4 linked regions of the Homo sapiens genome follow. The protein of the gene in region 2 interacts with the protein of the main gene of each other region in a pairwise test. Each region holds a gene or a part of one and is shown on either strand. Other genes may lie near its edges.

The links.
Region 1: the proteins of ISCU (region 2) and FAM9B interact in binary tests that used the Homo sapiens proteins (3 or more experiments, as listed by UniProt).
Region 3: the proteins of ISCU (region 2) and BANP interact in binary tests that used the Homo sapiens proteins (3 or more experiments, as listed by UniProt).
Region 4: the proteins of ISCU (region 2) and PICK1 interact in binary tests that used the Homo sapiens proteins (3 or more experiments, as listed by UniProt).

Annotation. Positions count from the first base shown.
Region 1 is NC_000023.11:9,024,100-9,031,133, forward strand, and holds the end of FAM9B (protein FAM9B), read right to left. Parts: intron 6,498-7,034; coding exon of another isoform or gene 6,469-6,497; exon of another isoform or gene 6,262-6,468; coding exon 6,162-6,261; intron 5,320-6,161; coding exon 5,208-5,319; intron 3,868-5,207; coding exon 3,769-3,867; intron 1,485-3,768; coding exon 1,416-1,484; 3' UTR 1,385-1,415; intron 1,279-1,384; 3' UTR 133-1,278; downstream 1-132. UniProt on the Homo sapiens protein: May play a role in meiosis.
Region 2 is NC_000012.12:108,565,577-108,569,883, forward strand, and holds the end of ISCU (iron-sulfur cluster assembly enzyme ISCU isoform 2 precursor), read left to right. Parts: intron 1-1,613; coding exon 1,614-1,692; intron 1,693-2,081; coding exon of another isoform or gene 2,082-2,128; exon of another isoform or gene 2,129-2,343; coding exon of another isoform or gene 2,344-2,396; exon of another isoform or gene 2,397-3,254; coding exon 3,255-3,340; 3' UTR 3,341-3,792; downstream 3,793-4,307.
Region 3 is NC_000016.10:87,954,405-87,961,438, reverse strand, and holds part of BANP (protein BANP), read right to left. Parts: intron 1,569-7,034; exon of another isoform or gene 1,446-1,568; intron 1-1,445. UniProt on the Homo sapiens protein: Controls V(D)J recombination during T-cell development by repressing T-cell receptor (TCR) beta enhancer function. Binds to scaffold/matrix attachment region beta (S/MARbeta), an ATC-rich DNA sequence located upstream of the TCR beta enhancer.
Region 4 is NC_000022.11:38,060,404-38,067,437, forward strand, and holds part of PICK1 (PRKCA-binding protein), read left to right. Parts: intron 1-4,598; coding exon 4,599-4,727; intron 4,728-7,034. UniProt on the Homo sapiens protein: Probable adapter protein that bind to and organize the subcellular localization of a variety of membrane proteins containing some PDZ recognition sequence.

The sequences.
Region 1 (7,034 bases), on a different chromosome or scaffold from region 2:
TGTAAAATTGTTTTACATGTAAAAACATGTACATCTTTTTAACATGTTACATGCAAAAAATCTTTTTACATGTTTGTTATATGTTGTTACATGTGAAAACTGCACATTAAAAAAAGGAAAGGCAGGCGAATTCATCATTCAAGTTTTTAGATGTCCATATAAACTTCCACATAATCCACGAATATTAAACTGGATAAACAAAGCACTCTACAAAATTTACCTTGCCACAGATGTGAAATAATTGTAAGCATACATAAATGTTAACAAAATGCTTTCATTCAATTCTAAGGGGAGGTATCATTGAATGATGGACCAAAACAAACTAAATAGCATTTTGATGTCTGTGGAAATGACATACCCACAAACCAGTGGCTCAGCACTGATATTAATATATCTTGCTCAGTTGCCTTAATCATTTACAGCAGTATAATTTTTTTTAAGAACACAGACAGTAAGGTGCTTTTAATAATTTTGATATGGCCATAGAGTATATCTATTTTTTGAAGTCCTACTTTCATTGGAATTGCCTCTTTATCCTAATGAGTAAATACAAAAGAACGCACAGATAAGATAGCTTTTGTCTTCTTCTTCTTGTTTTCTGAGAAAGAGTCTTGCTCTGTCGCCCAGGCTGGAGTGCAGTGGCACAATCTTGGCTTACTGCAACCTCCAACTCCCGGGTTCAAGAGATCCTCCTGCCTCAGCTTCCTGAGTAGCTGGAACTACACGTGCGTGCCACCACGCCCGGGTAATTTTGGTATTTTTAGCAGAGATGGGGTTTCACCATGTTGGCCAGGCTGGTCTCAAACTCCTGACCTCAAGTGATCCACTCCCCTCGGCCTCCCAAAGTGCTGGGATTACAGGCGTGAGCCACCACACCCAGCAGATATTGTCTTCTTTTATTAGAGAAAAATGTACTTTTCTATGCCTGTGCTTTCTACATTTTTGGAACTGATACAAATCCACAGAGGCCAAATCGAAATCTAAATTATCTTTAATGTTAAAATTTAATTGACCGTGTACATAACTATGCAATCCCTGCTTTCTCACAGAAGTGTCTAGGATTCATTCAACAGATCATAGAAACGAGGTCTGGCATTTAACAGACGAGTGACAGAGGAGCTATACCGATTTATACAACAATTATCAAAACACTGTCATGTAGTTTACTGTAGCTCAAGTTGTGCTTGTATCATATAACATAGGTTCAAGTTCTTTCTTCAGTCATCAGAATAACAGAGGTTGAAGAGACAACTGGGTAAGTGCCAACTTTTCCAAAAGCTGTTTCAAAAAAAAATTTAAGTAACTGTAATACACATTTCTGCAAATAAAATATTCCAGTGCTACATCAATCCTGAGTTTTTAATATTAAATATGCACTACTTACAGTTCTGACATGATTTTATTTAAAAACATGTCTAGTTATCAAGTTCACTGTCTTCATCGGAAAAAACTCTGTCACAAAGGTCTTCAAAGTCCTCAAGAGCCTAAAAGAAAAAGTCTAGTTCACTGACAAACCACCACTTTATATCTCGCATTTTAAACAGGGTTAATTAAATGTCAAAAGGAAACAGCTTTTAATATTCAAAGGATGCCAGTTATTCATTTCAAATAGAAAAAACTATAATCAATACATGGAGCTCCAAATACCCAATTAAATTTTTTAATGCCAGATTTCAGTGACATATTATTTTAGCAGGTCTAACAGTCATGTACTTTGCTTAAATAAAATGGGTTGAAGAACATCTTAAGGTCAAGATGGAGCGAAGACAGAAAAAGACGGGCAGGCTTATATCATGAAATATTATATTTTTTTTCAGCAGGTAGCGACCCATGTATTATCAGCAATAGCCTACATAACATGGTTTCCATTGAAGGGATAAAATGGTTGGTGATATGACCTCATCAAGTTAGAGAAAACGTAACTGTGTTTGAAATATATACTCTTTACTCAACAAATAGTTCAACAGTTCCTACTCCCTAAAATGTTGTAGGTTAATGCTGAGGAAGATGTAAAAAATGAATACACAATCTTCCGTATTTCTATGACATGAGCAAATGCACAAATAAAAAACAAGTAATACAAAACTTGTGTAACTGCTATGGAAGGGCAACTCACTCGGGCATGTAGCCAAAAATGGAGACTGATGTTGATTTAGTTGGCGAAAGGTTTCAATCAGTCAAAAAAAGATTTTAAAAGTATTGTGAGGGAAGAGCATGAGCAAAGCATGGGAGTAACGGTGAGTTCCTTCAGGGAAGGCGGTCAACCTGGAGAAGTGGGAGGAAAGACAGAAGGCGGCAAAACAAGCCTAAGAGGGGGTCATGTAAAGGGGAGAGTCTCTGAATATCTAAGAACTGAGACGGGGCATCACTGACAGGCTGGGAAGACGGAAGGGCTGGGAAGCATTTTAGGAAGGGAAGGGTTTTAGAAAGATAATATTGCCAATCAATGAAGGATGGCTCAGAAGAGAAGAGAGAACTCAGAAAAGAGTTTAATAGTACAGGTAAGGAAGAATGAGGTCTTGGACTAGGGTAGCCGCAGTGGGAATTTAAAGAAAGAAATTAAAGGACCATTGCAGAGGTAAAACTTGCCTCGTGATAACTACATGGGAAGGATAATGAACTCAGAAGAGTCCAAGATGATAGCAAAGTTCCTAACCTAAGTGGTAACATGAAACATTAATACTGACAGGAAAACTACTAGTCTCATGTTCATACCAATTAATAAATGGTATCTGGAGAACATTATAGCAACATGTTCTCTACTTGTAACTTCTATTTAAATAACTGTTTGTGTATAGATAATCCTCAAGTTGCTTGAAAATTTTATTTTCAAACTCTTTTCCCAGTTTATTTAACACATCTCAGTTAGTGTAGAGAAGTGACATATGAACATGTCTTTTCCAAGGTTATTAAAAAGAATACCAGATCTCCCCAAAAAAGATTCCACTGCTTCCTAAATTATCTACATCTACATGAAGAAGAGGTCATTGTCTGATGATAATTTGCTAATGTGCTGTACAACAGCAGATAATTCGCAATTCACAACGTGTTAATAATCTGCTGGCTTTCCCATTCTGTTATACATCTGAACCATCTCTTATGATTACAAATTGTCATGTAGAACCATTACTAATAATTTTGTAAGTGAATATGCCATAAAACACTCCTGTGTTTCAGCAAGAAATAAAAAAGACACACAGTAGTTACGCTTGCCTACTTCCTATTTAACTAAAACTCTTGAAACAACACAAGTAAAAAAGCCATCCAGAAAGGATTTATGGACCTCTTGCCTTCCACCATAGATTTGTCATTGATGTCCTGAAAACTGAAAATAAAATCTTCATTAAAACCCATTTATGCCTAGTGTTCCATTATTGGAACGCTAAGCTTGTGGGAATCATATATATCCTACTGCTCAAGGTCATGGCCAAGGTCTGATTTTTCACACACAAAAAAAATTTGCAACCTCTGGCATAAATAGGTTAATGTGTTAATAAAGTGTCAATTTTATACATAAGATGTGTATTTCTAGGTAAAATTTCCAATTTACCTTTTCCTGTTCTAAATAACTCCCACAAACTATTCATGAATCCTAAAAATACATTTACCAATTATATTATATCTGGAACAATACATTCAAAGTGAAAATGCTAAGTAATTTGAAATGTATAATCAAATGTCTTTCCATACATTCAGAAACAAGCAGACTGTCTTCTATTATGCACGTGTTGTATTTTATAATGTATTATGTTACCAAATAGAACAGACCTTTACGAATTGGTCACGTAGCAGCTTCATCTCTTTCAGCCTCTCTCTCCTAACACTTCTATATTGTTGCCACTTCTTCTGTTGTTCTTGAAATATTCTCTAGAATCCCAAAACAAAATAGTGATAAAAATTGGGTAAATTTTAATACTTACAAAACATAATTCTGCATTAGCTTTAAAGGAATACTGTTTAAATCAATACCTCTGAACACTTTCTTTTAGACAACATTTAGGACCAATTTTAAACAATTGTGTTCACCAATAACATGCTAAAATGATGTATTAACCTTTTTTATCAGTCATTAAGTAAAGAATTTTCTTACTTTTACACATTCAACACATATGTCCTAATTCTTGATTTCCAATGAAGAGTATTTGATGAACCTTCCTATAATTTGTTGACCACAGATAGGTAAGATCTATACAGAAATTAACTAAGAAAAATTCTTTCTAAGATTTTAAGCATGTATTAAATCTCGGTCATTTCAATATGCACATAGATGAACCACCCAATAATGATTGCCTTTCTGCACCCTGACCTAATCTCCAACAACAGTGTTCTCCTCTCCTCTACGTGGCACTCACTCACACAGTCATCCCCTAGATTTTGTCATTCCCAATGACTTCAACACCTACGTAATATTAATAATAGCAATGATAAAGAGCAACCATGGGTCAGATCACATCCTGAAAAACTTAAATAAACCTGTTACACAGAAACCCTTTGATCCTCCAAACAACTCTGACGTAGGTACTCTTACCATGTCTCCTTTCGTAGATAAGATAATTTGCCCATGGTTTCCGAGCTAGCAATGGTCAAGCTGAGATAAATAATTTTTCCATGGTTTCCGAGCTAGCAATGGTCAAGCTAGAATCCCAAGCAGTGTGGATGCATAGTCCCAGCCCTTGACCACTGCACTCAGCTGTTTCTCCAACTTCCCAACATACAGCCACTACCTCCCTGCCATCGTAGGTCACTCACTTCAGTACTACAGCTCAGGAGTCTGTTGGGACCTGACACCCACTGAATGGAGCACTTTTTACTGCCCATTGCCCACTCCCGTGTGCTCAGATAACTCAGTCCCAGCTGAAATTCCACAGCCAGTCATCATATCCCCATCTCTGCATCTATTCCCTGCCCAACTCTCCCTCTATCAATCTGCTCGGCTACACCCCGACCCAGGAAATTCCAACCCTACAGCTGTGCTTGCACAAATATGCCAACTGGGCTTACTTTAACTTCTTCATCGTTATGATGCTGACTTCAGTTGGACCCCTAATGCTGCGTGGCAATTATATTCCCCTAGTCCATTAGTCCACTAACGGGCCCCCCTCTCTGGGCTCATGCGCTCTTCCTTCTTTGCTGGATTTCTGCATGAACTATTACTACCTGAGACACTGACATAACAGGTTATACATAAAGCTAAGCATGATACCAACAATTAGTTCTTCCTCTTCTCCCTCTTCTTCTTCTTCCTCTTTCTGCTCGTCTGTGATGTATTCTTCAAGGACATTTAGCAACTTCAGAGAATGTATATAATCACGTTTCTGCCTGTAACACATAATAAGTAACACGGTCATACGTCATAGAGAGATGAAAAATTAATCCTATTCAAACCCAAACTGACTTGACATAATTTATACTATAAAGTAGCAAGGGAGTAATAGCAGCTGAAATCTTCTTTTTGGAAAAAAGTGAAATGAGTTACTCTCATTTTGAAAGGATTCTTTTCTTCCTGACTACTAGAGCAGCTATCTTACATTCTTTACCTGCTGAAGACAAAGGAGGGTTTACTGCACTATAACTTTCCCAGAAACATTTTCTCTAAGAGCAGTTTACTTTCCATTTCCTCTTACTGAATAACATATGGGTTCTCATAAGTAGGTTCAAGAATATCATAGCCATTCATCCCATAAGATTTCCCAAAAGAAAAACTTCACTTAACTATTTCTCCACTTTGGCACACCAATGATTTTGTAAAAGAAATAGTGAAAACAATTTAACTAAAATAGATAACTTATTTACAACATAAGGTTATCCCTTTCTACATAATTGAGTATCGTTAAGGATCTACAGACTAAACATTGAGAACATTTATCTTATATGCAGCTACCATATTTCTAGAAATGGATAAACATTAATTTTACAAGAAGGCTATTTTTATCTGGAAGGCAAAAAGAGGTCATCTTCATTGGCTTCTAGGTAATATCTCTTAATTCTGTTAAACTGAGGTTATAAAACTAAAGAAACTTACCTACTTAGAGAACAATCAAGTAAAATATGTTGTTCACTAGAGACGCCAATATGTACAGGATAGTTTTTGAAATTATTTGCACCAACTAATACAAAGAAATGATATAAATATCATTATGCAAAAAAGCCAACAGTCATACCTTTTAAGTTGCTTTTTTCTCAAAGCATGTTTACTTTTGTTCTTTGTTTTGCTGCAAGTTTTATCCATTTTCATCCTTTTTCTTTTTGCAGTAAGATCCTCTTTAATGTCAGTTAGATAGTAAATGAAAATGGATTAAAAGTTAATGTTGAAAAGTAGTTTCTTTGCATATACTGACATCAATATGGGACTTTATGGTTCAGCAATTTCAGAAGGATATTTAAAATATAAAATGCAAAGATCATTTCAAAAAGCAAGATTTACTCACTTATTTTCTGTAAAACCTTTCAGGTATTAACATTCGCATTTCAATTCCAGTTGGTATAACTGAAAATCACTTAATTGACAGATGATGAAAAAAAGCAAATAATTAAAAGTCTCTATTTTTTAAATGTGCAGAAAGAGTTATAAGCACAGACTTTAATTTCTACATTTATAAAATGTCCTACAATTCAAAGGAGATGCTTCCATGAAATACTGCACAATTCATTACGTAAAGCACACAAAAAAGTATCTTATATAATAGAACCCTCAAAAGGGTAGAAATAACTTAATGCACAATAAGAAAAGCATTTTTAAGCAATCTAGTGATTGATGCTATTAACTGTATTTTAATAAAAGAAGCAATGGCCATGAGTATAAAAATTTAGGTTTAGGTAAAGAAATACATTCAAAAACACTTTTGAAATGTTTTCTTGGAGCTTTTTATGACATTTGTACCCATAGTGCTGTGTTTCAGAAAACTGTAATACTGCAAGGAATGCTTTCCTAAACATGATTTCACATCAGAGCTCTACCATCAATTGCTAAGAATAATTTTCAGCAATCATAAAAGATTTGTACCACAATGCAAATATTTTTTACATACAGTCTC
Region 2 (4,307 bases):
GTTGTTTGGGTTTTTTTCTTGTTGATCATTTTTATTTTTTTGTTTGTTTGGGTGTTAATTACATATAAAAAAGATCCTCACCTGTCCCTCTAACAAAATAGAATTTAAAAGAAATCTTTGGCTTTCTCTAAGGTTACCAGTGCTCTTATAATTTCTCAAGTCAGAGAGTTGTTATAAGGTAGTTATTTTCTTGTTTATTTCCTCTCATGTTTCAGGAAGGGTTCTAGGTGGCTTTCAAGAATTGGTGAAATAAACTAGCCTGTGTTAAAAGAGGGATTAAATAATCAAAAAGACAGCAAGGGTGGGGGCAAAGTGAACAACGAAATCAGAACAGTGATCCAGGTGGCTGATCGCAAGCCCTCTAAAGGCAGAGATAATAAAGAGCTAGAACTTCTTTTTCATCCCTTTGTCTCCCAAGTGTCTTTCCCTGGTAGCTGCAGAGGTCAAAGGTCCCAAACACAGTGAAGAGCTGGACTTTCTAAAATCCAGTTGCTGTCAAAACCTCTCAGAAAAGCCAACCAGCAAGGCACTCATCTTTGCTGCCCCAAGGGACCAGGTTCAGGGAGCTGAGTCACAGAGGAGCATGCTTGGAAGCTGGCCAGCTCCACAGCAGAGCAGTTTGCCAGGCCACGTGCCACCTGCTTCCTGTGGCTCACGGCCTTCTGGCTGGCAAGCCCCTGTGGGCCAGGAAGCTCAGACCTAACCTGCTGTGGCAGGAGGTAGCTCTGAAGTGATTTGTCAGGAACTGTCCTCAGGTGAAGGGAGAAATGAGACAAGGCACTTTTGCTCCCAGAACCTGGCCCTTAGGGGACTGTGAATTGTGATCAGAAAATGGGAGAGAGGACATTTCTTTAACCTTGAGATCTCCCATCTGAGTTTCAGGAGCAGAACCTGAATCAACCAAGAAGGGTTAGCAGAATTGGGAAACTGAATGATAGACATAGTCAAAGAGTCTGGCTGTTGGGAAATCTGGTTTTCTGTAAGGCAGTGGGGCACTGTTCTACATGGGCAAGGATCTGCCTGCCTCACATTATCCCCCAGGGCTGTCAACCAGACCCCAGGCATCCTCTTTAGTTGATCTGGAGGAGATGCTCCTATAGGCAAAGGGGACACCAAAGAGAGCATTCGGCCTGACTCGGCTGTGCCACTGCCACTGTGCTACTTACCTGAAATCTTCCCAACCTCTCTGATGCCATTCGGCACTTCTAGTCAAAAGGATTTAGGCTAACATTTGGTATGAGGACATCGGAGAAGCTGATATTCACAAAACCAGCATAGGAAATCACTACCTTTTAAGGAAGAGATTCCTGTTACAGGCCACAAGCAGATCCCTAAGAGACTTCTCACAGGTTCCACTCCTGACTTAGAGAAGTGTCTGGGCTGTCTTTGCTTACCCAAGCCAGGCAGTGCAGCTGTGTATACTTCATGCTTGAGAATCCCAGCTGCAGCTTTGATAAAGTGGGAGTCCTGAGAAGACCCTTAGCCGTTTGAGTTATTAAACAGAAATCATCCCCACCAACCCTGAGAGCCTCTTTGGCCTCCCTTTTTTATTGGCTGGCCCTCACAAGATAAAGTGTTGCTAAAACTGCCCATCTTTCCATTATGCCTCTCAGGTGGAGGAAGCCTTGACTATCAAAAACACAGATATCGCCAAGGAGCTCTGCCTTCCTCCCGTGAAACTGCACTGCTCCAGTAAGTCTCTGCTCTCCATACCAGTCAGCTGGGACATTTGGCAGTAATTTCAACTTGGTTTGCAACAGTCCTTTTAGATCATGGAGCCCACGTTTGTAACCCTCAGAATTAGAGCTCATGAGTCTGTCCTTATAACCTGCAGAGGGTTAGAGCCCCCATGGTCTCACATTCATCCCTAAGAGAATCATGCCAGAAGGAGGTATGCACCAGCCATCATACTGAGCACTTCATGGGCGTAATTTCTAAACCTCACAAATATCCTTGAGTGCACAGTAGATGTCATTACTTCCCTCTTATGGATGAGGAAGCTAAGGCTTGGGTTGAGACGCCCACATCACATGGCTAATAAGTGGAAGAGCCAGAATTTAAGCTCCAATCTTTGATTTCAGAATCTGTGCTGTTTCCAGCAGAGGAGAAAACTCAGCTTTCGCCATAATCCTGTTTCCTGTGTATTTCTTCACTTCCTGTCTGGATGGTATTCCTGTCGGGGTCTGCATCTGTATATATGGAACAACTAAGCCCAGTTGTACAATGTCCCCCTCCCTGCTATCCTAAAAAAAAGCCCAGATGCCTTAAGACTTGTACTTGGCTTTCCAGTTTGGTCTCTGTATTAAATCTAATGCTTTTTCCATCATTTCTTAACCTTCTCAGGGAAAGAAGGAATGAGAAACATTAGCCTTAATGCATCGATGGAGGTTTACTAACCAAATTAGTTAAAAATCAGCAGAGAGTCAGGCCTCTTGCCAAGGTAATACTCACAGCAGAAGAGCCAGGTGCCGGGGCAGACACACTAACTCATTCTTCAGGAAGCCTGGTCAGACCTAAGTTCTTTCCACTTGATCTGGAATTTTAAGTACCCATAAAGAAAGGTCATCACTTGTAAACATTTTCACATGGTTTCAGGAAATCCCCAGCCCTTTTATTAGGCCTTTTTAGGTACTGAAACCTTTAGCTGATGTTCTCTGTTATTTGCTTGCTTTCTGCTGTCATTCCAGCTCTCTCAGTTTTTATTTTCCCCATAGCCTCACTTTGAATATTGACTCCTAAATAAAAGTGGTCAAACTCTCGATCACTAGAGGGTGATGTGGCAAATGCCATCCCATCAACAGATTGACATGATCTTTTTTCCAAAGGGCATGTCAACTTTTTTATCATGACAAGATTTTGTCCAAAGCTAGACTTTGATGGGAGCAGGCAAGAAGTAACATTTCCTGTGTCCCTACTATGTGTCAGACATCTTCTGTAAGTCCCCACACTATCCTGGCAAGAAAAGCATGATTATCCCAGTTCTATAGAAGAGAAAGTAGGGTCAAAGAGGCTAAGGAACTAGCCTGGGATCACAGATTTTTAACCCTAGTCTGTCTCCAGGATCACCCGCAGGAGTAACTCAGCTCAGGAAGCAGCTGCTGACGTGCCCAGCAACTCCTCACCCCAGCTTTCTGGCTTGGTTACTCCATTAGTCCCCACCAGCACCACTTCCTCCCAGCTCTTAAAGATTCTATTCCCAAGTCCATTTCTTTCACATCTAGAAACTTAGGCTTCTTTCCTTCCGTTACTTCCAGTGCTGGCTGAAGATGCAATCAAGGCCGCCCTGGCTGATTACAAATTGAAACAAGAACCCAAAAAAGGAGAGGCAGAGAAGAAATGAGCCCTCCCTCGGCGAAGCCTCCAGCAGGCCACACCAGCTGTTTCCCACCTGCTGTGCAGTCACCTTAGATGTTCAGAAGCCGCTTCCTCTCCACTGAAGAGCTATGAGATACGCACAATACTTGCTGTTCACGTTATGACTCTCATGCAAGCAAAATACACAGTTTCATTGTTCTGAATCCTGTGGTTTCTTTCAGCCCACTTTTATCGCCTTAACCTAGTTAATGTATATTTTGAATTGTGTGTATGACCTCAGAACTGAAATTGATAATGAAGTTGCAAGTTTTGATAGCCCGTGAAGTGCATAAGTATCTAATTTTACCTGAATTGATTTGGGGGGAAATTACCAGTAGAATGCCTTGGTCTGAATATTTGATAGAACCAATTGTTGTACATAAAACAGATTGCGCATATATATATATGTATAAAAAATAATAAAATAATGGAAGATGATGGTGTTCTCTAGTAAGCCTTGTCTCTTGGGCCCATCATTCACCCTGAAGTGGTGCCCAAAGCCCCTTGGGGTTCCCAGAGGTTGGACCGCAGTGACATACACAGCTCTCCAAGCAAACAAAGACAAATATACGTAATATTTTTTGGAACAAGGATGAAAGGAGATGATTATCGCTTGTCATTGTTCTTTGTGTGATAGTAGTTGAAAGCTCAAAGTAAGTCTTGAAGATTCTTTCTGTAATTTCACTGGTTGCTCAAATCTAAAAAGCATTAGCTTGGCACCCTAAAGCGGTAGACCAGATACATGAAGAGCACCTCGGGAATGAGTTTAAAATGCGGATTTCTAGGCCCAAGTTTCTGACTTCTGTCTGGGCAGGTAATTCCAGAGCCCCTGACTTTTAAGAACCTCTTGGGTTTTTTGTGGTCGTAGATGAGCCAAACTTTAGGGAAGAAACTTCTGAATGCTGTGTTCTGCATAGATGTAGTATCTTAAGTGGTTCATTCTGAACTATCTG
Region 3 (7,034 bases), on a different chromosome or scaffold from region 2:
ATCCCAGCACTTTGGGAGGCCCGGGGGGGTGCAGATTCTGTGAGTCCAGGAGTTCGAGACCAACCCGGGCAACACAGCAAAACCCTGTCTCTACAAAAAGTACGAAAAAATAAAATAAAATGCAGCCTTACAAGGAGATGCAGTTAGACAAGGGAAAAGTATCTTAATAGGCTCTTCAGATAATTATGGAGATTCCTCTTTGACACCACACCAACACGCAACAAGTGTGTTTTATTTTTCCTTAAAGGCTGTTTGCAATATGGAATGTGAACTGTATCCATGAGCTTCTGCACTTTATGGCTTTAAGATCCATTGGCTTGACTTGTACTCTAAATGGATCTTTTACCCAGGCGTGATCCCGCATCGACCATCTGGAAAATGTTGCTTCACCGAGTTAGGCAGCTCTTGCAAATGTTGTTCAGTCTATAATATCAAAAGCATACGGTTCATCAGCATTAGCACTGGCATCTGATTTATTGGGAGCTCTCGGGCTCACGGTGGCAAAGACAAACTTTCCAAAACTCCAACTTCACTTGACAGCTCAAACTTTATCACTGGCAACAAACACTGTTAGCTGACTTCTTTGAGGTGAGAGGCTAACTTCACTCATTTAGTAAGAGATGTCAGTAATCTGTAAATTATTTTTTTATAGTGTTCCATGAAAAGAGCAGCTAGTTCAACTACAACTCAAATAATCCCTCAACAACCACCCAACTTCAAAATACAATGAAAGTGCTTTCCGTGGACTTGCCATTTTATCAGAGCAGAATCACTGATTTTGTGAAACAGCTCATCTGCTGAGTTGGCCGGGGCACACCCAACACTGTGCCATGAACTGCTGTCATGCGTCTTGTTAGCAACGGGAGAAACTGGGTACCAGGCACAAGGGCACTCCCTATGCTATCTCTGCCACATATGTATACATCTCAAAATGTTCCAAAATAGAAGGTTTGCAAATAAGTATGTCTTTAGGATAAAAATAACAAAACCCTGCCAATACACGATGTGCCCCACCTGCTACCACCAAATCCTTGCCTGCCAACCTCTTTAAGCACGTTCCAAACCCTCACCCAAGCCCATCCTCAAGTGTGGCTCTTCCCAAGAGCTGCTGAATCCCAAGCAAGCCATCTGGGTCCAGATCCACCATCAGACTGAAATTCATCTCCCAGGTGTCAGACAAGAGCCCCACAAGCAAGCTCCTGACTGCGTGGGCACCTGCCACGGCCAGTGTTTCGCATCTCCCCTCCCTGTGGCCATCCTCACGGTCCGCGGGGCCTCTGCTCTGCTCCAGAAGCCCCCAGAAGGTGGGCAGGAGGTTTGGCTGGTGTGCATGAGGGCCAGCCCCCAGTGAAGGTGCCCCTTGGGACTGTCTCCCAGGGTGGGGGTAGGAGGTGCCGGGGACACCTGTCACCCCCAGGTCTCCATCTCCTGCCTTGACCTCTCACCGGCACTTTCTTCAGTCCAGGGTTTAAACCCCGTCTAGGCCATGGTCACTCGGATCAGCCATCCCAGCACTTCCACAGCTGAACCCTCCTCACTTCCCTGTTATCTTTCTCCCCAAGAATACTACCAGGAGTCCCGGCCACCTCCCTGCGGCCCCACCCTCATCGCCCTGCTCTCGCCCTTCCGCATCCCGAGGCTCCTCCCTCTCTGACTCCCCCTCAGCCCACCCCCTCACCCGGGACCTGGGCTCTCACCGAGTACCCTGGCACCCATCGCTCCGAAGGGTGGCATCGCCCCTCTGCCACACACACTCCGATCTGGCCGTCTCTTTGTCCTCCAATGCTCCATGTGTCCCTCCCAAAACCACACGGGCTGCAGCAGGAAGACCATGGCCGCTAAGCCCTTCTGTGGCTGACGCCAGCGCTGTTCCTCCAGGGGGCCTCCTCCCCGGAGAGCCTGCTAGTACCAAGCCTGGTCAGCCGCCTCCCTCGCAAGCAGCCTCACACCTCAGCTCCTCTGTGCAGGGCCCAGGCCTCTCCCCATCCAGCCACTGCCTCTCTACACAACCTCGTCTTATTCCTTCCCAGGGCAAACACACTCTAGGTCAGGGGGTGGCACGTGAGGGCCCACAACCCAGCCCAGCTCTCCACCTGCTTCTATGCAGCCTGTGAGCCAGGAATGGGTTTTACATTTTAAAACAGAAAAATAACAAAAGAACAATATTTCATGATGAGAAAATTACATAAAACTCAAATGTCAGCGTCCACAAACAAGGTGCCTGCTTCTCAGCCCAACAGCAGAGTCGAGCGGCTTCACAGTGGCACGAGACATCCCACGCCCCACAAGGCCAGAAACACTTACACTCTGACCCTCACAGAAAAGCGTGCCATCCCGTCCTGGGCCTCTGGGATCCATCAGTGAACTCCACAAAGATCTCCACCCCTGTGGGCATGCACGGTGTCACCACCCAGTCCCCAGTGTACGTGCCAACATCATGCTGAGGTTGCTCCCCTCACTGCCAAGGCGCCGCAAGGTCCTCCCTCCCCCATGAGAATTCTCTATGTCTGCAAAGGATGGATCCCGAAGCCTCCACGCATTCTGGGCCTTCCCCTCTGCAAACACTGCTGGGCTGTGAGTTTGTGCCGCTGAGCTCACTGGTGGATTTTCTACTGTGAGGTTATTAGTCTGATCTCCATAGAGATTAAAATCAACTTGGATGAGAAGCCACATGTTCAATCACAGTCACCCCTAAGCAAGCGGCTTAACGGGAATAGTTTTTGCTTGTTTTTTCTTGAGACAGGGTCTCACTCTGCCGCCCAGGCTGGAGTGCAGTGGTGCAATCATGGCTCACTGCAGCCCTGCAGCCTCCAATTCCCGGGCTCGAGTGATCCTCCAGTTTCCGCTTCCCAAAGCGCTGGGAGCTTTGGGCCACCATGCCTGGCCCAGTGGATGGCCTTTTAAAAAGTACTTTATACACTACATCCAGAGTTACCCAAATTCAGTCAAATGCTGTGCATAACCACCCGCTAGTAGACACACATCACAGAAGAGTGGTTTCCACGCTCTCGACTGGGGCCTACGATGGTAAGTTCATACACTCATCACTGCAAGTTTCCTGAGTCGATACCTACCCGTTAGCCACTCCGAACCATGCTCCTTTTATCCAAGGCATGCTCCATTTTATCCAGTATTCTTAACACTGGCCATGGCCCACTCAATTGATGTGGGTTCAGACCCAAAGTTTGAAAAATAATGCACTCAAAATAAGACCAATGTCAGTTTCTAGGGACTCAGAGTTCAAGAACATGAGGGAACGTGGCACAAACGACCAAGGACCACCACCTAACATGACCTACACCACAAAGAGGAGAGCCAGAAATTGTAAGACAACAGGCCAATTATTGCAAACTGTGTTTGCCCACTGACAGTCACAACTGTTGGCTGGGAAACAGGGCACCCAGCCTTCTAAAAACACTTAGGGTGTGAACTTTCTCAATCTCAGGGACGCATTTCGGCAGAAAACGCAGACTGGCAGCGGCAGCACTCTGCTCAGGGACCCACCGCCAGCTCCCACCGACACAAGAGCTGAGCTCACTTGAGGACACGTAGCGGCAGGGGTTGTCCGCATCCTGGCCACCAGCGCCCACAGAGCTTGCAGCATGCCATGATGACAGCAGGGACCGTGGCCCAATTCCCCCCGCGTCATCTGGTGAAAGGTGAAGGCGTTCTGCCATATTTACGGGAAGCGCATTCACACCGGCAAGGAAATGCCAAGCGCGCACCCAGTTCTCCCTCCCGGCTCCATCCAAACGCGTTTCTACTTTCAGAAAGATTAAGCTTTGCTTCCAGATATTTGATGACTTTTCATCTCAAGGGAAAAGGAAAATCACTACAGGCCACAACGGCCTTCTCTCAGACACAGAAGGTAACTGGTCACTAGCGAAAGGTTTGTCAGCGCAGGGCCCTGCGGCAGGCCTCCGTGAGCTTGCCTCAAAACCGCCCCAGGTCTCCTGACAGGACTCCACACCAGCCCACCCGGTCCACACAGGATCCGGTCTCAACCACGACAGAATGTGGACACAGACGAGCAGAGGGGAGGTGACTGCAGCCAATACACACCCCCGATCCATTCTGCCCAGCCTTCCTCAGGTGTTTCACTGCAGCCTCCTCTCAGCCTTTCACCTCCTCAGCCGCCTCTGCTCCATGTGTCCTTCCACAGCTCCCACGCTGTAAGCTGGCGACCTGTGGGTTCCGAATGGAGCACCGCGCCATCCTCCACCACCACTGACCCCTTCCCCAGAGAGACACCTCCCATGGGAGCAGCGAGTCGTGGAGTCTGCTCCACCGTGAACGCTGACGATCCAGAATGTTTAATCAAATTGGACGGTTCTTGACGAAGTGTAGACGCGAAGGATTGCAGAGTGGTTCTTTCCAACAGGAATCAAGTTCATGTGACTTCACAGTATCTCGGCACACCATCTGCTGGCAGCTTAGGAGTTAACACTTCCTGCACATTTTAACCAAAGACACTCACAGGATTCTGCCACGGAGGCCCCGGGGTGCTCCTCTCTCTGAGACTTACGGCACCCCTGAGAGGGGGCTTCTGGGACAGCACTTCATCCTCTGCACGGGGGTCAGGATGGAGGGTGGCGGAGAGTGTTTCTCTACTTCCTGAGGATGGAGACATCGTCTCTTCCAAAGGGGGGGCCAGAGTGGAGTCTTGTACAACAGACAAAGGGAGTCCCAGGCGAGCCCACCGGGACGTGCAGAGGCGGAAACCTGAGCTTGTCTACGACTACAACCAAAGCAGGCTGAGCTTGCCTATGATTACAACCAAAGCAGGCGGCTCTGCAGGCTGGGAAGGCCACGTACCAATCACTCGCCCCATTCTTCTCCTGCAGGGGCTGAAGGGCCCCAGGTGCAGCTGAGAACAAAACAAGTGTAGCTTTTTCAGAGCAAATTGCAAGTGTGTGATTCCACCCAATACTGTTTTCAACTTCCTGAAACTCCTCCCCACGGCCCCCAGGCCCCCAAAGTTCCGGATGGTTCAGAGCACTTCTGCTGACCAAGTCAGATGATGTCATGCTTTCACCACCGTCACCCGTGTGAAGAGAAAATACAGATGTTTATCTACCTCAGGCACAGGGAGGACCTTCTAAAGCTTTCATCTCATTCTCATTCAAACCCTCAAATTGACTTTCCCCAAGAAGTCTTTCCTTCAAAATGAGGAAATGTTTAGTTTCTCTAGATTGCAGTGGCTAAACTGGTGCTGTGAGTTACAGTCATTTTCAAGTCAGCCTTGCGACTCCATGTCATGTCAATCACTTAATCGTGTAACTGGAGTTTTTGGGATTTGTACAGTATCACTGCAGACGAGGAACCCAAAGGCTAACAATCCTGACGGGGGAGCTGCAAGACCACTGAGGCCCACTGCCCAGCACCTGTGCCTGGAGCCCCCAAACCCCTACTCCCTCACCTCCCTCAAGGTTGTGGGAAGGCCTTCCGTGTGGACCAGGGTGCACACACATCACCTGGCCACCTGCCTGCAGGAAATTCTGAGCCTCCCTGTCTTTCAAGACCTGGACACTTGAGACGCACTGGCCAGGACTGTGGTGAGCATCCCTCAGTTTGGGTGCAGCATTTTCTCATGATGAGACTGCATTTCTGGCAACACTGCCAGAGAAGTGATGTGTCTCACTGGGTCCTTGGTGTCAACGTCTTATGACTGATGGTGTTACCCCGATCACTTGCTTCACACAGTATCTGCTGGGTTTTTCCACCGAGAGGCTACAGTTTTATTTTTCCCTTTGTGACGTGTATCTTGGGGGAGATACTTTGTGACTATGTAAATATCACAGACAGAAGGACATTAAGGAGACAGGGCGGCCACACGCACCAGTGTGGGGTCCCGGAGGGGATCCCGAAACAGCAAGAGGACACTGGTGCAAAACCGAAGTTCGAATAAGGTCTGTCATTTACGCAATAATGCTGTGAACTTTCTGGCGTTTATATGGATGCCTGGTTACATAAGACGTCAACATCAGGGGAAGCAGATGAAGACAACAGGGAAGCTCAGTGAAATATTTTTTGCATCTTTTCTGTAAAGTCAAAAACTATCTGAAAATTAAAAGCTGACCAAGCTGCAGTCTGATTCTGCACGAGAACCTGGGTAGGGCCTGAAAGTGTGCGTTTCTCACAAATACCCAAGTGATGCTGATGGACACAGCTGGCCCCTGGACGCTCGGCTGGCAAGGCTCTGGCAGACAGAGCCCACCGCACTACACACAACCTCCCAGTGACAGTCAGCCACCATGCAGAAAGATCATGCTCCCAGTACGCTCACCACTGCTTCACTGCAGGCCCTCCTGGACCCCAGCAGGGCAGACGGCCCGCTTGGCACACTGACCCAGCGAGGAGCCAAAGTCAGGGTCTTTGCTACCACACGGGTCTGCCGGGCCTTGCCCAGGTACGCTGGCAGCCCTCCAAGGCCACAGGGCCAGAGCCACCAGCCCACGCTGCAATTCAGAGGCGGCTGTGGAACGGCGGCTTGGCACCTCACCCCGTTGACTGTGGGCAATTACCAAGGCCACAAGGAAGCAGGAAGGTGGAGTGAATAGAACAGGCTTGCAAATTCCTGCTCAAGGGGAGTGACTGGCCGTACGGGTGACCTCCTCTCACTCCATTAACATCATCTTTAATAGGGTGTTATCAACCCACAAGAAAGAACACACTCCTGACAGATGCAGAGGACCCGATCAGGGCAGAGGGAAAGCACCGGGGGCACAGGCGTGGGGCTCCAAGCCTCGCAGAGCCCTGCGGGCAGGCCAAACCCGCACCTGCCAAGTCGGTCCCGCACAGGAGAGCTAACTCCCCCACGGCCAGCAAAGGGGCCTTCCTAAAGAAGCGGAACAGCCCAGAGAAAATATCTGCAAGTTGGTGCTCCAGGTCCCACGGTGACAGGCTCCCAATCACCCGAGGGGAAACTGGACTCTTTCAAAAGCACCCCACAGACCCGGGGCTCTCCGCCAGCTTCCTCCTGCCTCAGACAACAGTAAACATCAGTATGGAGGACTTGCCATAAAGAGGAAGAA
Region 4 (7,034 bases), on a different chromosome or scaffold from region 2:
CACTGTGTGGCTCATCCAAGTCAGTGACCTTGCTGTAGCCTTGGGAATACCTGTTCTAACCCTCTCACTGGTGGCAGATGGGAAACTGGCCTCTGTGAGGATCTTGCTCAGGAGTCGCTTGTAGGCCTCGAAGACAGATTCCCAGGATCGACCTGGTCTTGCTTCTGCTCACAGTGCTGCCTCCTTCATGAGCCATTCGGCCTCCTGTGACCCAGGAGGCATTAGCAAGACCTCCCCCAGGCCTGGCCTCCTGGCCGTGTGTCTGCTCAGCCTCTCGCCACCTCCCTCTACCTACCTCAGGTGCAAGTTTGCTTAGAATGAACAGACATCATAAAATAGTATAATTGATTTTTTTTTTTTTTTGAGACAGAGTCTCACTGTGTTGCCCAGGCTGGAGTGCAGTGGCGTGATCTCAGCTCACTGCAACCTCTGCCTCCTGGATTCAAACGATTCTCATGCCTCAGCCTCCCGAGTAGCTGGTATTACAGGTGTGCGCCATCATGCCCAGCTAATTTTCGTATTTGTAGGAGAGAGAGGTTTTAGCTATGTTGGCCGGCCTGGTCTCGAACTCCTGGCCTCAAGCGATCCACCCACCTCAGCCTCCCAAAGTGCTAGGATTACAGGCATGAACCACCAGCCAATAAAATAATAGAACTGGCCGGGTGCGGTGGCTCACACCTGTAATCCCAGCACTTTGGGAGGCTGAGGTGGGCAGATCACCTGAGGTGAAAACTTCCAGACAAGCTTGGCCAACATGGTGAAACCCTGTCTCTACTAAAATACAAAAATTAGCCAGGCATGATGGCGGGTTCCTGTAATCCCAGCTACTTGGGAGGCTGAGACAGGAGAATCGCTTGAACCCGGGAGATGGTGGTTGCAGTAAGCCGAGATCGTGCCATTGCACTCCAGCCTGGGCAGTTGAGTGAGACTCCGTCTCAAAAATAATAATAATCATCATCATCATAGAATTGATTTTTTTAAATTCAATTTTGTTTTTATCAAAGTGCCATATGACTTGCCTCTACCAAGTCAAGAGCATTAAAAGCCCTGTATCAAATAATAGCAATCCACTGCCCTTCCCCTGGGCACCTCACCCGGCTTTCTCTGTCTCTTCATGCATGGGCTTCCATTTTTCTCAATAGTCTCACTCTGTCGCCCAGGCTGGAGTGCAGTGGTGCAAGCATGGGTCACTGCAGCCTTGATTTCCCCAGACTCAGATGATTCTCCCACTTGAGCCTCCAAGTAGCTGGGATTACAGGCACGTGCCACCAAACCTGGCTAATTTTTGTGTATTTTTTGTAGAGACGGTGTTTTGCCATGTTGCCCAGGCTTGTCTCAAACTCTTGGGTTCAAGTGATCCACCCGCCTCAGCCTCCCAAAGTGCTGGGATTACAGGCGTGAGCCACCGTGCTCAGCCTATCCTGTTGTTTCTTGATCTATCACCTGTAAATATCTATTGACTTTGCCTCGTCTGGTAGATGAGAATTTAGTTCTTCCCATGACCAGTCTGTTTCCTCTCATCCCACCTTTCCAACATAGTTATTTTTCTATTTTTGGCTAAATTAATATTAGTACAACGGAGATTTTGTTCGGGAAATCTTTTCCAGATGCCTCCTAGGCTCTGTTGTAGGCACTAGGGATAAAAGAATAAGAAAGCAAAGATCCTACTCTTGCGGAGCCCTCATTCTAGTCAAAACAACTCTATGTTTAACTTTCTGAGGAATCTATGTTTCTTTTCTTAATTCAGCCTGTTCTTGTGTTTTGAGAGGGTGGGGGTAATTTCCTGTTTTGTTTTTTTCATTTGCACTCTCCTTGTTTTCTCAGTATGTTTTCCACAATTTCCCATCTTTTTTTTTTTTTTTTTAAATTAAGTCTTGCTCTGTTGCCAGGCTGGAGTGCAATGGCGTGATCTTGGCTCACTGCAACCTCCAGCCCCCGGGTTCAAGTGATTCCCCTGCCTCAGCCTCCGAAGTAGCTGGGATTACAGGCACGTGCCACCACGCCTGGCTAATTCTTGTATTTTTAGTAGAGACGGGGTTTCACCATGTTGGTCAGGCTGGTCTCGAACTCCTGACTTCAAGTGATCCACCTGCCTCGACCTCCCAAAGTGCTGGGATTACAGGCGTGAGCCACCATGCCCGGCCCCATTTTCTTCAGTCTGTTTTCCGCCCTGTAGTCTCTCCCCCTTGTGCCCTCCCCCTGCCCCTGCCCCTTCTCTTTGGATTCCCCCATCTTGGGGGTCCCTTTCCTGGTTTACTCCCTGATCTCCCGTGGAGAATATCCTCCTGTAGCTTTCTGAGAAAGGGCACGTGGGATGTCAATTTTTTGAGACCTCGGGTCTGTCTTTTTTGGTCATTGTGGTTCCCATATTCCTTTCAGTTGACATTTTGGCTCATTCGATTCAAGAATGAACGTCAAGGTTGACAGTAATTCCTGTGTGGAAGTGTGATGGCCTTGTCACATTGTCCTTTGCTGTCACATGGCTATTGCCATTCTTATTGGTGATCCTTTATTTGTGATGTGTTTTATTTCTGATCTGTGAGAACTTTGAGGACTTTGTTTTTGTCCCTGGTGTTGGGAGGAGTCGTGATGGTAGCTGCAGGCACAGGCTTTTGTTTATTGTGCCAGATCCTCAGAGGGCGTCATCGGGAACACCATGTCCTTCTTGTCATGTATCTCGATGATGACATCCTGCTTTCTGTATTCTCTGTTCTGCTTTTTTCTATTTTTTTATTGTGGTAAAATTTACCATCTTAACTTTTTTTTTTTTTGAGACAGGATCTTGCTCTGTCGCCCAGGCTGGAGTGCAGGGGTGCGATCATGGCTCACTGCAGCCTCAACCTCCTGGGCTCAAGCGATCCTCCCACCTCAGACCCCCGAGTAGCTGGGACTACAGGCACGCGCCACCATGCCTGGCTCATTTTTGTATTTTTTTTGTAGAGACAGAGTTTTGCCATATTGCCCAGGCGATCTTCCCACCTCGGTTTCCCAAAATGCTGGGATTACAGGTGCGCACCACCGTGCCCAGCCCTTGGTCTATTTTTGAATTAGGTTGTTTGGTTTTTGTTGTTGAGTTTTAAGAATTCTCTACAAAGCACAATCGGCTAAGAGGAAAAAAAGAAAAAAGAGTTTTAGGAATTCTGCATATATTCTGGATATTAATCCCTTATCAAAAATGTGATTTGCAAATATTTTCTCCCATTCTGTGGGTTGCCTTTCTTTTCTTCTCTTCTCTGTTCTTTTTTTTTTTTTTTTTCGAGACAGTGTCTCACTCTGTTGCCCAAGCTGGAGTACAGTGACGGGATCTCAGCTCACTGCAGCCTCTGTTTCCCAGGCTCAAGCGATCCTCCCACCTCAGCCTCCCAAGTAGCTGGGACTACAGGCGTACACCACCATGCCCAGCTAATTTTCGTGTTTTTTGTAGAGACAAGGTTTTGCCACATTGCCCAGACTGGATGGTGTATTTTGATGCACCAGTTTTAAAATTTTTATGAAGTTCAATTTGTTTATTTTTTGTTACTTGGATCTTAGGTGTCACATCCAAGAAATTACTGTAAACTCCAATGTCGTGAAGGTTTTGGACTAGGCATTTTTCTGAGTTTTATAGTTTTAACTTTTACATTTAGGTCTTTGAACAATTTTGAGTTAATTATTATTATTATTATTATCTTCGAGACAGAGTCTCGTTCTGTTGCTCAGGCTGGAGTGCAGTGACATGATCTCGGCTTACTACAACCTCCACTTCCCAGGTTCAAGCGATTCTCCTGCCTCAGCCTTCTGAGTAGCTGGGACTGCAGGCGCCTGCCACCATGCCCAGCTAATTTTTGTATTTTTAGTAGAGATGGGGTTTCGCCATGTTGGCCAGGTTACTCTCGAATTCCTGACCTCAGGTGATCTGCCTGCCTTGGCCTCCCAGAGTGTTGGAATTACAGGTGTGAGCCACTGCGCCTGGCCTTGAGTTAATTTTTGTATGTGGTGTTAAGTAGTGTCAACTTCATTTTTCACATACCATTGTTGAAATGACTGTCCTTCCCCATTGAATGTTCTTGACACCCTTGTCAAAAATCATTTGATGCCGCCGGGCACGGTGGCTCACACCTGTAATCCCAGCACTTTGGGAGGCCAAAGCAGGTGGATCACCTGAGGTCGGGAGTTTGAGACCAGCCTGACCAACATGGAGAAACCCTGTCTCTACTAAAGATACGAAATTAGCCGGGCGTGGTAGCGCATGCCTGTAACCCCAGCTACTCGGGAGGCTGAGGCAGGAGAATTGCTTGAACCCGGGAGGCGGAGGTTGCGGTGAGCGAGATGGCGCTATTGCACTCCAGCCTGGGCAACAAGAGCGAAACGCCGACTCAAAAAAAAGAAATCATTTGACTATGTATTTGAGGCAGGAGAATTGCTGGAGCCCAGGAGTTCAGTGCCACAGTGAGCTGTGATCACGCCACTGCACTCCAGCCCGGGTGGTGAGACGCTTTCTCAAAAAACGAGAGCAGAGGGTAGAGTGGAAGACAGAGCCAGGCAGTGGTCAGGTGTCTTCCCAGGTTCCATCTTAGCCCTCCCTTTCTTCCCCCACCACTCTCCTTATGCACCCACAGGTATTTGACAACACCCCAGCAGCCTTGGACGGCACAGTGGCAGCTGGCGATGAGATCACCGGTGTCAATGGCAGGTCAATCAAAGGGAAAACTAAGGTGGAGGTGGCGAAGATGATTCAGGAGGTGAAGGTAAGGGCTGCTGCAGAGCAGGTGTCCAGAGGCAGCAACACATGTTTCTGAGACCTCCAGGCTGCCAGAGGTCCCAGCAGGCCTGGAAGGGGGTATCAGCCCTCACCGCCCCCTTCCTTGTCATGTGCAGGGTCAGGGTCACACTCCAGCCTCCCTCATCCATCCCTCATTCATTCAATAAATACTAATCGTGCTCCAGGACTTGTGCTGAACCTTGGCAAGAGAGTGGGCAGCAAGACCACAAGGTCCCCATGAGCTCCCAGGGAGCTGACAGACTTGGAACCACCCCTCAGGCAAGCCCATGTGTCCCCAGTCAGTGCCAGAGCTGAAGCTAAAAGTCCAAGGTGATCCTCCCTGGGTCAGTAGACACCCAATAATGTCAGCCGGGTCACGCTGGGCCTGTGAGGGCTAGGAGGGAAAGAAGAGTGCCCTTTCCCCATCCTGTAGGAACTTTCGGTCCCACACAGCCTCCTGGGCTCATAGACACCCAGAGACCCCCCTCCCAGGCCAGCTGATCTTCTGCTCTACAGACCAGAGTCACACACTGCCTGCCCCGCTTTCCCCCACCCCTGCCGCTCCAGGACTGGAATGGCAGGCGGCATCCCGGCCTCTCCTGAAGCGAGCATGCAGCCCCTTTGCCATTTCCTAGCGAAGTGGCTGCTAGCTAGTCTCAGGAAACCAATACTGTGAAAGAACTGATGTGCAGGCAGTGCACAGCCATGGGGTGATTTGAAAGTCTCGGGGGCAAGGGTCCCCACTGTGAGTTCAGCTTGGCCAAGGGTGGCAGCTACCTCCCTCAGCCCCACTTCCATCCTCCGGGTTCTGGCACTCCTGATAGTCCGCCTTCCTGCCTTAACCCAGGCCAGCCGCTGCTCCATCCTCTCTCCCCTTTATCCTCCTGTCCTGCTCCTGAGTAGTCCGTGCTTCTCTCCTTCCTTGCTGTAGGAAGAGTCCCATCCTGCACATTCTCCTATTCCAGCCCCTTTAGCCATAGGACAAATCAGGGCCTGGGGCTGGGGCTCAGAGCTCTGTTGTAAAAAAAGGAAGCAGCAAGGTTCATTGAGACCCCACAGCTGCCACTCCACGTGGTCTGGGTATCACTGCCTCAGGTATGACCTGTTAGGCAGAGGAGCTGATCATGGGAACAGGTGCAGGGGGTCTCGTTCTGGCCGAGTTGGGTTGTGTGTGCCCCATTTGGCAGCCCTTCCCCCCTCCGCATCTCCTCCCCATCTCCACTCGCCAGGTCCCTCCCTGTCCTCTCAGGCTTGGTCATACCAGCACCTCAGGTTGCCCATGAGGACAAGAGCTCTTTGTATTTGCACACAGCCATGACAGGGATGCAGCATTGGCCCAGCTCCCCTGTTTGGGTGCTGGGCAGGGATTACTCTCCCATCTTACAGGTGTCCACAGGCGGGGAGTGACCTGCTTGTGGTCACACAGCTGAACTGGAGCCCGGGCCCGACTCCCACTGCAGCCCGCTTGCCGTTGGCCTACAGCTGCTCCCTGTGGGGTGGCCCCTGAGCACGCCTGTGTTTCATTCTGCGGGAGCAGTTCACACCCCACCTCTGACTCTGATTGCATCTGCTCATTTTGGTTTCCCTTTGGGACTTGATTTTAAAATCCTGTTTTATATTTGGATGAATGTGGTCCCAAGTTCAAGGGCTTTTGGTTTGCAAGGATGAGAGTGAACACAGCGCCCTCCCGTGCTCAGGCAAGTCCTCTTGGGAGAAGCCTTTGTCTCCTGAGCAGTCGTTAGAAAGTGGTTTGTGTAATTCCCTGATTCGCATCAGCCTTGCGGGGCTGGGGCTGCCCCTGCCCCTCCCCTTGGTGCCCCAGCACCAGGCACAGAGCAAGTGCTCAGATGTGCTGTTCGATGAGTAGAGGGATTCCTGGGGATGGGGTGTTTTGGGGTGGAGGAGGGAATAATCAGTGTAGGGAAATGACACGGCAAAGGCTTGGAGTGTGGTTTGCGTGGGGAGGGAAGAAGGAGAGCCTGACCTGGCCGAAGCACAAGACATCAGAGACCGCCAGGCTGTGGGCCCGGTGCCGGCCCTGTCCCCACTGATTCCCCAGGGCTTGGATGTAGAGTAGGAAGGGAGGGGCCTGGGATCAGACAGGGTCACAAGGTGGGGCCATGTCACAGCGCTCAGCCTGGCCCTTACTGGGGCTTAGGATTCTTTTTTTTTTTTTTTTTTTTGAGACAGAATCTCATTCTGTCATCCAGGCTGGAGTGCAATGGTGTGATCTCAGCTCACTGCAACCTCCGCCTCCCAGGTTCAAGTGATTCTTTGCCTCAGCCTCCTGAGC